2 separate regions of the Homo sapiens genome follow, and region 2 is linked to region 1. The links come from fine-mapping of genetic effects on gene expression. Tissue or cell type: whole blood. Region 1 holds a variant in brackets; the other region holds the start of a gene. All regions are shown on one strand. Distances are from middle to middle.

Region 1 (8,102 bases):
GATAGAGGTGGGAGTTTTCAGAATAAGGCAGAGGCATAGGCCTTTGGAGCGAGAGCACAGCCAGGCAGCCAGACACGAGGTTTCCATAATTGCTTCTCTGAGGGATCAGGGGCTGTCATGATGTCATTTGCTCAGAGGGCTTGCTACAGATGGGCTGAACATGGACCCTATTAAGTCACCTTGTTCAGTGGGAGGCCTATCATTCAGGATCCAGTCAGAAATACAAAAGCCAGTCTAAGTATGCAAAAAATGTAATTCAGGGAATTGGGTAGGGAATCACTGAGAAGCCAAATAGGGAATGTAATTCAGAGATTAACAGAGATTGTTCCCACTGCTGGCTCCAGGCTGGAGCGCAACTGAGAGGGGGTGTTACTGGAGTCACAGTGGGGAATGTCCAGCCCAGGGCTAGAATACCATGGAGGCCCCCTATGGTAGCTGGGACCTAGAGGGAGAGGAGCCACAGAGGAGAGGCAGCTGCCGCCAGCAGCTGATGAGGTGATTCCACTTGACAGGCTGACAGAGGAATGAATACGTTGGCTTCTCTCCTTCTTTGGCCCCCCAAACCCCATTGGCTGAAGCCAGCCAGAGGAAAGCTGACTGGCAAGCCTGAGAAATGCAGCCTCCAGGGGTCAACTTCCCCGCAGTACAGAGCAGGGGATGAAAGAGAGAATCACGGTCCTGACGACAAACAGCCAAATGGCCAGTACAGAGACCATGGCCATGTCAGTGCCCCTCAGCCTCGCCTGGGGCCCTGGGGTGGCCACCAAGTAGGGAGAGCAGGAAGGAGAGGCCACACCACAGAGGACTCCACCCTGCAGGGACTCCTGAGGGGCAAACATAGGTCCCCACCATCATTGTCACCCCAACCTATGTGACCTTCAGCATCTGTAAGGATGGAGGGAGGAGGGCAAGTACCACAGATGAAGCACAGAGAAGACCCAGGTACAGCCTGGCTGGACCCACACACAACTCACCCAGATGCCCTGCTTTGAACACCAGCTCCCGAGATAGGCAGAGGGCAGGGCAGAGACACCTGTCCTCAGGAAGCCAACAGGCCCAAATCCCACTGCCTTCCACTTACAGAATCCAGAAACTTCCTTCCTCCCCCAAGCCACTTTTCCCTCACCTATACAATGGGGATACTATGAGTACCTATCTCACCTCTGTGAAGATGAAAAACACAACATGAGTGTGCCAGGTGCAGGGCTGGGCCCATTTCACATGCCAGTCGGCTGGAACCTCCCACTGGCAGGCAGAGCCCTGCCTGTGGCAGAAGCCGTCTTGGACATGTCTGTAGGTGAGCAGCCACCTACACACAGTAGGTCCTCAGTCAGGGCTCTCTTGACAGGAGAGAGAGTTGAGAGGAAGAATTTGGGTGGGGTGAAAGCAGACCACTAGGGTCAAAGCTCTGAGAAGAACCTCAGTCAAACCACAATACAGCTCCTGACAAAAAGGGGAAAATATATTTTAAATAAATAAGTGCCCTGAGTGAGAAGAGGAAGGGTCAGCGGTCTTGCTCAGTGAATGGAACCACGGTATCCAGGGGACCCTGAGCCCGGAAGCCCATGGCAAATTCCAGCAGGGCCACGCAGGGCCCCACACCCCATCCCTCTGCTACCTGCCAACAGGGTTTCCTGTTTCCAGATGGGCCTCGTCTCCTTGGTGTGACACGACCACCCAGCCCTTCCCACTCAGAAATACACGCACAAGGTCCAGAGCTCCCAAACTTGGAGAGCTGCCCCGGGAGTATTAGAAGCAGGCAGGCTGGAAGCTTGACGTTAGAGGCTTCCAGATCCAGCGCTGGGCCTCATTACTGGGAAACACATGGTCGTCCCCTGTGGACACTCTTGGAGGCCAAGGCAGGAAGCTAATCCTCGGGGGTCTCTGTCTTTCAGTTTTACGTTCCTCTTCCCCTGGGCCTACAGGGTCTGTGGTTGCAGTGCAGAATTCAAGCCAAAACATCAGAAAGCCTCATGTGGTCTGACTTCTCCTTCCCCTCTCCATTCCCCAACACACACACACACACACGCACGCATACACACACACACACACACCCCTGCATACACATATCCATCCATACATACACACATGCATACACACATACCTGCATGCACACACACACATGTATATACACATGCATACATACACACACACACCTGCCTCTGGGCTCTGTCAAGCACCCCAGGTAAAGTGTTGGTTAGAAAACCACATGATAATTATGAGCTGTGAGTTTTGCTCCACAGTTATAGAAAGGGAAAATACTTCCACTTGAGATTCTCAGCCCGCTTTACACACCGGAGTGAATATTTTGGCTTAGCTCAGAGGAAAACAGAAGCAGAGAAGCGACCCCACTAGAGGAATGGTAGGGGAGCATGCTGGGAAGGTCAGAGTGTTCTGGATAAAGGGATGCATGCCGTAAGAGCTGGCCACAAGTTCCTGAGAAGGCTGGAACAGCTAAGTCTGATGAAGAAAGCACTGGATTGAAAGGAAGACGTTCAGCATGGCTGAGCGATTCTGAGAAAGTCACCAGGAGCTCTGCACACTTCATTTTGCCCATCTCTACAGACAGAATTGTGCTGACAAATGTTTAGCAGCTCTCTGAGTGGCAGAGGCGCTCTGATTGTAGTGTTTGCTGATGTCCGTGATGTAAATTGTCTTACCACAGTCAACTTCAAGGTATCAAAATGACATCACTGAATGTGGAATTGGAAAGAGACACACAGTAAGCCCACCATCATGTGGCATTCCCACCACACAGATACAATCAGTGTAAATAGCCCCAAGGCCATAGATATAGTAAGGTATAGTAAAATAATTAGGAAGCAGTGAGTTTTGATTTATTTATTCACTTTGTATTTAATATCATTTTGCCATAAGTTCATATAATTGTTAATAACTTAGTTACATTAAAAATTTAACAGTTTAATGAGTCATTAAATATAATTTAATCATTTAACAATCAGCTTTTATCAAACACTGTGAGACAGTTCCAGCGCACCACTGCATGGAAAAAGTTCCAGACCCTTGTGCTCAAGTGCTGGCTGGAAAAACAAGTTAATGTCTTGGAAATAAACTTGGTACCTAAGCAGAAGCCCTGGAAAGGCCAGAGTTACCATTCTAAGAAACACGTACAATATTTTGTTATTTAAAAGTGAATTCATTTATATTTATCATACTAGATATTTAAAATAACTTTGAGGATGTTAAACCATTCCATGGTATAGATGAGGAAACAGGATCAGAGAGGGAAAGGGAGGCCAAGCCCACTCAGCTGGCATTTGATTTACTCTAAACCCCTCTCTTGTCTCCACCCCTCCCTTCGTGGCCTTGGTGAGGGGCAGCCCACACCAGCACACAAGCTCTGACTGCACTCCACTGTCAAAGCTCACCTTACAGGCATCGCCAGACACGGTTCACAACTGGAGTGCCTGTGCCAGGCCTGGACTTGGCCCTCTGGCTTTAAGGGAATATTAAGTAAGAGGTCACACTCACTTCTTTCCTAGGACTTCTGTCACAGAGCTCGGGGACAGTGACATTCAGAGGGTGCCTTCCTTCCAAGATTGGAGGAAAACACAGCTCTCTGAGATCCACCCATTTCTCTG[C/T]CCTCTGGGACACAGGATGTTGGTGTCTCTGCTAAACTGATCAGAAGGCAGCAGAAGGGCTTTAAACTCAATTCTCTGAGCTGTAGCCAAACCCCAAGGCCTCCTGGACACCGAGAGCTGGACAGTGCCTGGCTGACCACCCAGGCTGCATGCAGCGTTACCCAGCAGCCCCTTGGAGATCCCCAGACAGGCCACCACCCCGCCCCGCAACATGGAGCAGCCAGCACTGGATTCCAGGACCTCTGCTTGGGGCTCAGATCCCAGACCCCCAAACTCACATGTGGCTGGAAACCAGCCCCCACAAAGTCCTCCCGTGCAAAATGAGACCTTCTCCCACCTCCCACCTTCCCCCAGCTTGGCTACTTCCCCTCCAGCTTCTGGGTAGGAGATACTCCATTGCCCAGGCCACACCCCCTCAATCCTTTGTCATTTCAAATTTTCTGGCATGTAGGTTTGGTATGCTTGGCTCTTTTAAACATCACGCTTTATGGCCCTTTGCAGTGTAATTTCGTTCCTGTCCTGCCATTCAATTTGAATTAAATATCAAACAGATGTGAGTCATTTTTTTTGCTCTTTTTAAAGAAAAAGTTTAATATTAGAGAGCATGCCCTCCTATAAGATCAGGAAAGCCATTTGGAGAAATAAGCCCCTTCAAATTAAAAAAGAATCACATTGATTAACGTTAAGATGCTTTCAAGTGATACATTTCGAAGTGCTAAGGGAAGGTGTTTCCAGCAAGCTATAAAGCAGCCCGTAGAAAGAAGGGGAAGATATACGGCCCAAGGCTGATGGGGAAATTGGAGCTCTGAGAAGGGGCAACCCCACCTGGGAGGAAGCTCTGAGCTTGGAGATGAGGTTCACAGATGATGTTGGGGGAGGCCATCTTCCCTGAAGGCCTTAAGCGGGCCCCTGTGCTCTGCAGCCTGTGTGGTCAGGCCGGGAAGGGAAGCGTGAAGGAGCTCCATTTTGCTCAGAGAGCTGGCCTGGCCTGAGTGCCCATTCCTCTTCCTCACATGCGTGTGCTAGCTTGGCCTGTCTCCCTCAGCCAGCTGTCCCCAGTGATTTTGTATGTCTGGACATGCTGAATGGCTTAATCCACTCATTCCTGCTGCAGTCTCTCGGGTAGTGCAGTCTTTGGCTTTTTGTGGGTCTTGGACACCTCAGAAAATGATAGCTATGGCTTCTCTTTGCACATAGGAACACACGCAACTTGCATTCAACCTCAGGAGCCTATGGTTTCCTGGTGTAGATTCTCCCTCTTCCCCCAGCCCAAGACAGCCAGAGCGTAGAGCATTCCATTACCAGGACACTCAGTGCACAGGGCCAAGGCCTTCCTCTCACAGAGAACGGGAACCTATGTTTACTGAGCACCACGTGCCTAGCACTGTGTAGGGGCTTTTGCATGAGCCAGAGGAGCTGGTCGGTCTCCAAACTGCTCTCCCTTCTTGGCAACATGCATACCTGGAACTCAGTGTTATTGGACCTGCTGCCGTTCATGGCTACAAGCCAGGGCTGCTCCTAGCGCCGCCTCAGGCTAAAGTATTTCCATGTGGTCCTTTGACTCACTGCACCTAAAGGCAGCTCTCCAACGACAGCCGGCTCACTACAAATGGCATTTCCACGTGGCAGGGCAAGGAGCCAGAAGGCATCTGATTCCAGCTGGTCTTGAACATCCTGGACCCTGGGACAAGGCTCTGCATACCCAAGGTTTGCCTCTGGGATGACGTGCAAGTGCCCAGAGACCATGGGGAGCATCAGGCCCCACTGATGAGAAACAGAACCAACACTTCCTAGAATTCCTCAGACAAAAGAGAAGTTGAGTTGAGGGATTTAGAGCAAAGAAAAGCCTAGACTTCGGTCTCAGACAGCCAAAGTCTGGATCCCAGCTCTACCACTTACTGGCTCTGTGACCTTAGGCAAGAGCTCAACCTCTCCCAGCCTCAGTTTCTTCTTTCTGTGAAACAGGAGTATCACAGGTCTTACAGGGTGTCTGGGAGGATAAAATGGGGGTGCCTGTGAAGGACTCTGCACCGTGCTTGACCGACATTAAGGCCTCAATGTTTGGAAATTATCTTTTTGCCCCCTTCCCTCCAAGGTGACAAGCCTCCTATCTGATGGTGCTTGCTGGGGCCTGGGGGACTGGGAAGTGAGTCACAGCAGGCTCAGTCCCTGAAGGAACCATACCGATGGCCACAAGAGGAGCCGCAAATGCAAAAGGAGTGTGCGTTACTGTCTCATAATTCCTGTTTCAGGGGAGGGAAGAGGGGGGAGGGGAGAGGGGAAGAAAGCAGCAGAAATATCTGCAAGTGGTTTTAGAAGAGGAATTGAAATTCACAAGCCACTGCTGCCATTCCAACCGTTATTTTCATCCACGGCAATTCAGTCGCAATGTACCGAGATTCATCCTGAGAGCCTTGGGTGTGGGGGCTGTGGCGGGTGCAGCACAGAAATGGTGAGGCCCAGCTTCTGCCCTCCAGGGACCCAGGACCACATCCAGATTCCAGAAGGACTCTGAGCTCAACCTGACAAAGGCTGGTCTGGGCAGAAGGGGTTTCTGAGCGGGGCAGGGACGAAGTCATACCTTGAAGGATGGGCCGTCTGCTGAGAGAGAGGGACAGCCCCTGGCTATGCCTTGCTGCCCACTGGGCAGGGGCCCAGGGACAAGGTAGCCAGCTCTCTGAGTTCTCCATTTAGCCCCCTCCACCTCCCAGCTCACATAGCCCCACACGACAGACATTTATTTGTGTTTCACTAAGAACAAGAGGTCCTTTCTAAAGGGGCTGCTCGCTGCCCAGCCTGGAAACTCGTAACAGCAATGAAAACACATTTCTCTTACTCTGCAGCTAACAGGGTCAGCAGAGTGTCACTCAGAGTCCTGAGGATGTGGGTGAGGCTCCACTCCCAGCCCCTCCTCAGGAGCCCAGGTCTCTCTCCAGGTGACAGGGGCAGGGGGAGACATGAGGCCCTAGGCTGTTAAAAGGGGCTTACTATGACGGTGGCTTAGCCCCATAGCCTCCAAGATCCCCAGGATGCCCAGTCTGAGTCCAGAACCTCGTGTGGTGGCCACATGCATTCTGTTGACTGTTTCCGTGTTCCCTACGGGGCAAAAGCTCAGCCACAGGCTTTTCTCCAGCGTTTGGGACCACATACATTCTGTCCTGGACTGATGACATGGAGTCTTCTCCTAGTAGGAACTTGATAACTTAGACACATTCATATCTGTCTCTGCTCTTATTTAATTTTCGTGTTTTAATATGCATTTAACTACGTGGATAACTGAAATGTATTTAAATAAACATTTACTTACATGCCCCTCCAATCTTCCTCAGGGTACACACTTTCTCACAGTTGTAATCAGGCTACACAGACTCATTTTCCTCAGTTATTTCTTGGAATTTCATATGGCTCCATCCTTGTCATATTGAGCTTATTGGTTACACATTATTATGTCACAATACACCTTAGTCTATAACTAACCAATGAGCATTTTAACTGGTTAAAATGTTTTTGCAATGGTTAATGTAATACTTCAAAGTATTCATCAAATACTTTTTCTTTGGAACAATTCCCTTGAGAATGTTCCCAGGGGCTGCATGCTTTGTGGATCCTCTATGTGCCTGATGTTTTGCAGACTATCTCATTAATCCATGTGCTGATCCAGCAGACTTTGTTCCTATGATGCCCATTTTACAGATGGGAAAACCAAGGTGGGTAGGGTTGGAGTGGACATTTGCCCAGAGCCAGCCAGTGTGTCTCCATGAGCCATTTCTTGGAATGCCCCTCCCTCCAGGTATACTCTAAGTGTAACGGGAGCCCCGAGTGCCTTTACCCATGGCAGTGAATAACAATGGTGGGATGCTTCAGTGGCAGTGAAAAGCTGGTATGGGATGAAGAAAGCTGCTTCTTCAGCCTCTGAAACCACTGCTACAGATGGCCATCTTGAGCCAAGCCCAGGGCTGCCCTCCCCGACCCCTCCAGAGACCCTTTAAGTAAAGGAGGAGGTGGTTTTTGGATCTCTAAGCCCCTCTGAAGATGTGAAAATGGGGGCAGGTCAGCCACATGAAGCGCCAGCTACAATGTGTAAACACACCTCAGGGCGATGCTAATCTCCAGGTCAGGCCCTGGTGCCACCAGCAGCCCACTGCAGACACAGAGGCTGGGGTGGTTCTGGCCAAGGGCGCTGTGTGATCTCGTGTCCATGGCAGAATGTCACCGGGTTCCCAGGGCCAGGCAGCAGACCACTGGTTGGCACCTCTGTCTGCCCTGCAACGGTGTGAGTGCCCTGTCCAGCCTTCCCTAGATGCAAAGCTGCCACAGTTGCCAAGCCAGAGAGGGGCCCATGGGCTCATGCAGGCATCTCAGCCCCTGGTTGTGCCCCTGGGTGAGGTGCACGGGGCTAATCAGAAACACCTGTGTACATGGAATTTCCTGCCCCAGTTCAGCCTTCATTTCCTCTGCCAGTAAAAACCCAAGACGTGCAAAGGTGAAAGAAACCAGCCA
Region 2 (8,102 bases), 410 kb after region 1:
TCAATAACTGCATTAAATGCACTAACAGTGAGGAAACACGCCCCTCAGACTAAGCAGTGAGTGCTGCTCACAGAATAGTCCCCATTGGGGGATGGCCCAAAGAGTCACTTTGGTCCCTCTGGGAAGTGAGAAGGCAAGTGAGAAGGCTGTGAGTCTTAACCTCCTCTAGAGGCCCACAGACAGACCATTCATTTCTAAGTCTCTACCCAGAGACGCACTGTGCTTCCCACCTTGGCCTGACATGTGGCAGGGTTAGAACACACCTCCTATCCCCTGCCAGCCCGCGTTCATGCCAAGTAGCACATATATGCCTAAACTCAGCACTTCCATAGTGCAGTGAATACATGTGTGTGTACAGCATCTCCGCATGGATGTACAGGATGTGTGTGTGTGTGCGTGCCCCCATGCTGTCTGCATTCAGGCTGTTCTTTTTGGTAAGACAGCTAAAAAAAGAATGGTCTGTGAAGGGACACTCCCTAGCACGCTGCAACACCTGAATATCTCCTTGAAAGGAGGGATCTTCTACTGCAGGAGACTCGTGGTAAAGGTGGCCAAGAAACATGGCAACGGTGGGGCTGAGGGCAAATGCTGGGCAACTGTGCTTCCCCATGTTCCCCTCCCCGTAGCCAAGACTCATTTCATGGAGGGAGATCTCAGCTTGGAAGAAGGCAGGAGTCACTGAGCCTCCCCAATCCAAACCCCTGAGAAGTGTCCTCCCTCTGGCCTCAGACCCTGCATCCTGTGGTCACAGACCCACAGTGAGAAAGGACCAGGCCCTAAGGAGCTGTGCTGTCTCTCCACGGCCCAGAGCGGGGGATGGGGATGGGGATGGGGATGGGGATGGGGATGGGGATGGGGGTAGGGGTGGGGGTGCTTTGGACTAACGTGGAGGGAATGGAAGGCAGGCCTGGTTCCACCCTGCATGCCCGACCCTGGCCCCAGCAGCCCCCACAAGGAGCTCAGCTGACCCTGGGTGTCTCCCTGTGATGGGAAGGGGTAAGACGAGGACTCAAAGGCAGAACCTGCAGAGTGCCCCAGACGCTGATACCTGCACAGTCAGTGCCACCCACCCAGGAGTTGAGGAGGCACTGGGTTTTGGGGTGAGGACACTGGACACCTCCCTGCTTCTTTCCCAGGCAGACAATCCTGGCGCAGCTCCCTTGGGTTGCTGTGTCTGGTGGAGCTGATCACAGGTGAGGGGCAGAGGGCAGTCTGGGGTCCGCCTATGGCCAGAGGAGCAGGTCAGGGCGGCGCCTTGCCGCCCCAGCTGTGGCCTGTTTGCTCAAGACGCTGAGGTCTCGGGGCCAGCTAACAATTGTTGAGCAAAATCCTTCGACAAACTTCACCTACGTGCAAGGACTCGAGGAGGGAATCACTCTTAGGAGTGGGAGAGTAATGTCTTTGCCTGTGCCCAGTGAAGGCCCATTGGAGCTGCAGCTCAGCTACCACTGTGTGGGAGAGAAGCTGGAAGACTGAGGGCTTCCTGGGCTGCTGGCCCAGGGTTGGGAGACAGCAGTCACCTGGCTTACCAGGCCTATGCCTGAAGCCCTGGGAAGCCAGGACGCAGGCCCCAGGCTGGGACAAAGCTACCCTGAAGGAGGGCAAAGGCTGCCAAGGCCAACCCCATGCCTGCCAAGGCCAGGCCTGGCCCATTTGGCCAAGGCCTAAGGTGTAAAACAAGGGGAGAGGTACAAGAGGCTGTGGGGTCTGGCTGGGATCCTTGGGGTCTTCCTTCTGCATTCTCCAAACGCCTAGAGCCAGCAGAAACGTTTCGTCTGATTAGAAGCCATCATTTCTATCCCAATCCCGGAAAATTGACTGCGGTGCAGAGAGGGAGGCCTGAGAAGCAGCCGTAGGGGAGAAGGTCCAAGCTAATTAGGAGGCAGCATCCGGGGGCCCATTAGAGCGCAGGCTGCTGTCACTCAGCCGGGCTGAGTTCCCGGGAGAAGAGGCTGGAGAAGGAGGGGCAGGCGGCCCCTCGACGAGGACACCGCTGGGAGCTGCCGGAACGGGCCCCGGGCTCTGCCCCCGCCCCGGCGCTGGCTCGAAGGCGCCCGCTCGGTGCGATCCTGTTCGGCAAACATTCACTCATCCTGGGCTGTTCTCGCCAGGGCTGGGGACTTCGAGGCGGCCGAGACGGGAGTTGATTCTAGGCGAAACAAGTCATTTGAGGCCTGAGGTGTGCACGAGCCGCCCGGGACTCGCAGGCCAGATGCGTTTCTTTTGTGAGGCCGAGGGAGAACTCGGTGTGTCACCGGGGAAGGAGGGAGAGGCGCGGCGAGGCCGCGGGGGGCGGGGAGGCGGCGGGAAGGTGGCTGCGGAGGGGGAGGGCGCGGGCGAGGCAGGGAGGGAGGGAGGGCGGCAGTGAGGGCGCGGCGGCGCGGGCGGCTTGGGGCTGGATTCCGCCCGCGCTCCCTCGCTCGCTCGCTCCCTCCCCAGCCCCCTCCCACCCAGGCCCACCCCACCCAGCACCCCTGGCGCAGGGACTGCTGGAACCTGGCTGTGCGCGCTGTCGCTTTAAGACAGACTCTGCCGGCGCCGTCCGGAGCCTTAGAAACCGGCCCCGGATCGCGAGCCGGAGCCGGAGCCGGAGCCGGGGCCGGCCGGGCTGCTGAGGCCCGAGCGGCAGGAGCGCAGCGCGGAGCGCTGAGCCAGGCGCCCAGTCGCGAGAAGCTGCCGCCGCCTCTGCCCGCCCGGCGCCGCAGCCCCGGGCGGTCCATGGGGCGGGCACGGCGTCGCTGCAGGCGCCGGCAGCCCTGGAGGGCAGCCGCTTAGGCGCTGCGCTCTTGTCCCCGCAGGTCGCAGCCAGGGCGGCGGGGCGCGCCCAGCCCCGGCCCCTGGAGCGCCCGCCGCGGTCCCCACCTCCATGGACGCCTTCAAGGGGGGCATGAGCCTGGAGCGGCTGCCGGAGGGGCTCCGGCCGCCGCCGCCGCCACCCCATGACATGGGGCCCGCCTTCCACCTGGCCCGGCCCGCCGACCCCCGCGAGCCGCTCGAGAACTCCGCCAGCGAGTCGTCTGACACGGAGCTGCCAGGTAAGCGCCGTTCCCCGCGCGGCGCGCACAGAGCCTACCCGGGCGCGGAGCACGGGGAGCTGGGAGCAGGGCCTGACGCCCGCGCCGCGCAACCAAGCTCCCTCTCCGCCCCAGAAGCGTCAGGAGCTTTCTTTTTCCCGTTCTCGACCTGACGGTGAACGCGGAAACTTACGCACACGCGAAGGCACTTCCACGCGGTCCCCACGCGCCAAGAGACTGGCAGATGCACGAGCCTACAGCTGGAGGGTTGGACTGACAGCCCCTCTTGATCAGGAGTAAATAGAACGGGAAAGAATTTGATTTGCGCAACTGGGCGCTAAGGAGCGGCTCGGACGAAGGGAGAGGAGGAGACCGAGAAAGGAAGAGGGGTGACGGGCGAGAGAACGCACTCAGAGAGACAGAGAGGGAGGTTAACACCGTGACAGTAGGCGACAGAATGAAAGAGACCAAAGAGAAGGGGCGGGCGGGAAGGGTAAACGGGGGGAGAGGGGTCATCAAGTAGAAGGGAGACACAGAGGACGGTGAGGGCGAGCGGGCCAACAGGCGCGGCCGGACTCCCAGCAAGGCCAGCCGGAACGCCGATCAAGGGATCCGGCCCACGTGCGCGGCCGAAGCCCGGAGCAGCCCGGCTCTGGCCCCCGCCCCGGCTCCTGCGCGTCTCCCTCCGCGCTGCCTTTTTTTGTCCGAGCTGGAGCTTTTTTCCAGCAGCGAACTGGGCCCGCGGGTGGCCGGCGCGGGCAGTGGGGCAGCGAATCCGCTGCCCAGCGCAGCCGGCCGGGTTCCGGAGGGGCTCCGAGCTCCCCGGTGTGGGCGCCTCTTCTGCGTTCATTTCTTAATACACAGCTGAATGTTTCTCTCCACTTTCTTAGTATCTGTTTCTCTTTTGCATCCCTAAGTGATTTTTCTGAGAGGTTGTTTGCTTGGTTAAAACATAATCAACGCTGAACTCTACTTTTGTTTTCAAAAGTTTTAAGCGCGGTCTTTGGTTGGTTTTATTTTTAAAACCTAGAGAGATATATAATCGTATATTGATTTTTTTGAACCAAATCTATGAGGATGAATTAATTTTAACTGTATCTTTCGATTCTGAAAGAATTAACGTACGAAGTGTAGGTCTGGAATTTAAAATATCTACATGCAACATTATTCTTCCGGAGATTTTAAAAAGTCAATCCAAAATGGCGCGTTTCTCCGGAATTTTCTCAAAATCCATTTACAGTGGTGTTATTTGGGGAATTTAAATTATCTAACTATAATGTGTTTCTCTGGGATTTAAAAATTATCTCTACAAGGGCCTTATTGGGAAGGAGTTAAAAATCTATCTACAACGGTACATTATTTTTTTAAATCCCAGAGAAATAAATGCTTCTGTCAACCTGGAGTTTATACACTTACAGCTCTGTATTTAGTTAGGGGTGTGTTTGTACGGAGCTTTCTGGCTTCTTAATTTACATTTGCTCTGTGTTTCTTCCTGTCTGATTTTGAGAATTTGTGGCCCTTTCAGTGTCTTTAGGCATAGAGCTGTGAGCTTTTCTGGGCTTCTGTGTTTTGTTTTTAAACTCTTTTTCTTTATGTATTAATGTTTCTATGACTGCGTGTGTTTTGTGTAGCTTCAAAGAGAGACAGACTAAAGCCCGAGGTCACCTAGACAGAGTCTGTCTGTCTGGGCTGCAGTTGGTGGGGTTTTCTAGGCTTTGGGACTGGAGGCCTGGAAGCAAGGCCGAGAACCCGGCTGTGTTGTGCCTGCCCAGTGGGGCTCCCATACACCCCTGAGGAGAAGAAAGTGGAGGGACTTTAGGCTGGAGAGATCTGATCCTAGTTCAGAAAAGCAGAGACCCCCTCAGATTTAGACCCCCTAAGAGTTCGCAAAACAAACAAACAAAAAGCATACATTTGCTGGGAACATCAGCAGCAGGGTCAGAATCTGAGCCGAGCTAAGGGTGCAGGCCCTGCCCAGCCAGGAACGCAGGCCCGCGGCTCCAGCTCCGATTCTTGGGCTCTTCTCCGCGGCACACCAGACTAGAGGTGCCTACTGACGACCAGCACCCGGCGGGCGCTTTCCAGTGGGGACAGTTCCCAGGAACCCTAGAGGGAGGGAGGGAGGGAAGACCGCCAGCGCTGGTGGCGAGCGGTTCGGTGGAGCCGGGACGGGGTGCAACGGGGCGTAAGCCCAGGTGACCCGCTCCCCGTCCTGCCTACTGCAGAGAAGGAGCGCGGCGGGGAACCCAAGGGGCCCGAGGACAGTGGTGCGGGAGGCACGGGCTGCGGCGGCGCAGACGACCCAGCCAAGAAGAAGAAGCAGCGGCGGCAACGTACGCACTTCACAAGCCAGCAGTTGCAAGAGCTAGAGGCCACGTTCCAGAGGAACCGCTACCCCGACATGAGCATGAGGGAGGAGATCGCCGTGTGGACCAACCTCACCGAGCCGCGCGTGCGGGTGAGCAAGGGGTGCGCGCCTAAGGGCACCCGCGCAGAGGGCTCCCGGGCCGCCTCTGCTGCAGCCCTCCAAAGCTTAGACCCACAAGCAGAACTTCACTCTCCCACCATTCAGACCTGCTCCCTCCCTCCACCGGAGATCCCCACCTTAGGCCCTGGCCCACTAGCGTCTGCCAGGCCTCCAGGCGCCTCGGACCTTCAACCCCTTTGACCCTCATCCTACCTGATCCTCGGACTAAGGCAACCCCAGCCCAAAGACCTGTGCCCCCAGGGGACTCCCCCATGCCCTATGGGGCCCAGGACCCACTCAGATGTTAGCAGGATACCCTGGGCCAGAGACTGGGCAGTGGATTCCCTGCCGCTGGGGACCTCGGGAGCTGTTGGCCTTATCCCGAAAACGAAAGGGAAAGGCAGGTCCTGTCTGGCTGCCTCGGAGAAGCCTGAAAGGTGCCTGGGTTTGGGGCTCTCAAAACTTCCTGGAGCAGTGGTCCCATCTCATAAGCAGATTCTCTAAAAGCTCAAGATATTCTCCACCCTCCCCAGCCATCAGTAGGACCCTTTGCCTTCTGCCCTTTCCGGAAGGTCTCCCGTCAGGTGAGGTGGGGGGTGGCTCCGGGAGCCAAATGTCCTTCCCAGTCCCTTTTAGGATATGCCATCTCAGACCCAAGACCAGCCTGCATTCTCCCTCTTCTCACCCGTTTGGTTTCCAGTAAAAGCAAGGCTTTCCTGCCAGGGTAGCAAGAGAATCATTTCTTCCCTGGGGGCGTAAATATTTAATCAGATATTGGGAGCACCTCCCAAGTCGACCAAAATCCCAGCTGGCCCACAGACTCCTTACCATAACCCCAGCCCTCACCCCTCCCTAGGCAGGCTGGCCAGCCCAGTGGGACTTGGAATGAAGACACAGCACTCAGTAATCCTGAACTCACTAATCCTGCCCAGGTTTATGGTGGTAGGGGTGGGTGGGGGTGGAATCAGGTAGTGTCAGTGCTGGGGACTAGGGAAAGCTGAGAAGCAGGGATCTGGCAAACTAGCTCAGGAAACTCCACTCAGAACTGGAGGAAAATCCGAGTGGGCAGAGGGCATGCGGTAGGCAGATAGGTAAGGATGGGGGAGGACTAGGAGGTTCTTACCAAATTTGGGGGGAGAAAAGGAAGGGCAGGAAGATTAGAAGAATCTAGTAAGAATAGAAAAAATTTAAATATTTGTGGAGAAACATATTTGGCATATATTTAGGCGGCAGGAAAGAAATTAAATAGGAAGCAAAAAGATCAGGTATTTGAGAAAAAGAATCAACTGTTTAAGGGGAACAGTGCAGGTCAGATATTTGGAAAGGATTCAAAAGCCTAATATTTGAGGACGATTCAAAAGGATCAAAAATGGGGGATAAACAAGAAAACAGACTGAGGGAGAAGAAAGAGGTTCAGACAGTGGGGTGGACTGAACGAAAATAAACATTTGGAGCCAAAAAGAAAACATCAAATATTGCCGATAAAGATGATAACAAACTATTTGAGCGATGAAATAGATCGAAGAATTGGGGGAGTCGGAAAGTCCTATGTCTCAGGGAGGAAAAATACCTTTTGTATTTGAGGGAGAATAAAAAGACTGAAATATTTAGTAGATAGAGCGAACCTGTTTGGGGGAGAAGGCAGAGGTGAACTGGTTGAGAGAGGAAGAAAGAAAACGAATATCTGTTAAACGAGAATCCGTATTCGGAGAAGAAAACGGATATAATTTCGGGAGAGGATAAAGATCGGAAAAAGAAATTAGTATTTTCTGGGGACAGGAAAGGAACCATTGTGGAGGGAATGCAGGAGCGGAAATATCGGTCGAAGGAGAGAAACGACGTTCGGAGGGCAGCGGGCCGACGGAAGGCTCCAGGCGGTGGGGAAGGGGGTGGGGTCCCTCCCGGCCCGCAGCGGCCCTGACCCTTCTCCCGTCCCCTCCCCCAGGTCTGGTTCAAGAACCGGCGAGCCAAGTGGCGTAAGCGCGAGCGTAACCAGCAGCTGGACCTGTGCAAGGGTGGCTACGTGCCGCAGTTCAGCGGCCTAGTGCAGCCCTACGAGGACGTGTACGCCGCCGGCTACTCCTACAACAACTGGGCCGCCAAGAGCCTGGCGCCAGCGCCGCTCTCCACCAAGAGCTTCACCTTCTTCAACTCCATGAGCCCGCTGTCGTCGCAGTCCATGTTCTCAGCACCCAGCTCCATCTCCTCCATGACCATGCCGTCCAGCATGGGCCCAGGCGCCGTGCCTGGCATGCCCAACTCGGGCCTCAACAACATCAACAACCTCACCGGCTCCTCGCTCAACTCGGCCATGTCGCCGGGCGCTTGCCCGTACGGCACTCCCGCCTCGCCCTACAGCGTCTACCGGGACACGTGCAACTCGAGCCTAGCCAGCCTGCGGCTCAAGTCCAAACAGCACTCGTCGTTTGGCTACGGCGGCCTGCAGGGCCCGGCCTCGGGCCTCAACGCGTGCCAGTACAACAGCTGACCGCCCCGCCGCACCACGCGGGCCGGCGGCCGGAGCGGGGAAGGGCGCGGGCGCGGGCGCGGAGGACGCACGCGGGGCCCCGGCTCGCAAGCCCCAGCTCACCGCGCCGCGGACCTCACACCTGCGCAGCCCC

Which allele goes with the higher level. Alleles are on the strand shown, and positions count from the first base shown. SD is a standard deviation of normalised expression in the study named.
For the expression in whole blood of the gene that starts at base 3,474 in region 2, C is the low allele of the variant in region 1 and T is the other (small effect, 0.27 SD a copy in GTEx).

Evidence for each region. PIP is the estimated chance that this variant, and not a neighbour inherited with it, causes the effect.
Region 2: it holds the start of PITX1-AS1, and the variant in region 1 is fine-mapped to the expression of PITX1-AS1 in whole blood (GTEx, PIP above 0.99).

What each region holds. Positions count from the first base shown.
Region 1 is chr5:135,435,352-135,443,453 of GRCh38, reverse strand. No RefSeq gene overlaps it. Among named protein-coding and RNA genes, the nearest start is that of DCANP1, 7.9 kb to the left of the region's middle. RefSeq lists enhancers at 6,016-6,175, 7,000-8,102. The variant C/T (reference allele first, on the strand shown) is at 3,603.
Region 2 is chr5:135,028,646-135,036,747 of GRCh38, reverse strand. PITX1-AS1 (PITX1 antisense RNA 1) reads right to left here and starts at 3,474. Exons shown (of 6, transcript NR_161235.1): 1 at 3,208-3,474. It overlaps PITX1 (paired like homeodomain 1), which reads left to right and starts at 2,520. Exons shown (of 3, transcript NM_002653.5): 1 at 2,520-3,035; 2 at 5,240-5,472; 3 at 7,427-8,102. The coding sequence starts at 2,867. The coding sequence ends at 7,969. RefSeq lists enhancers at 3,004-3,636, 6,961-7,645 and a silencer at 4,807-5,014.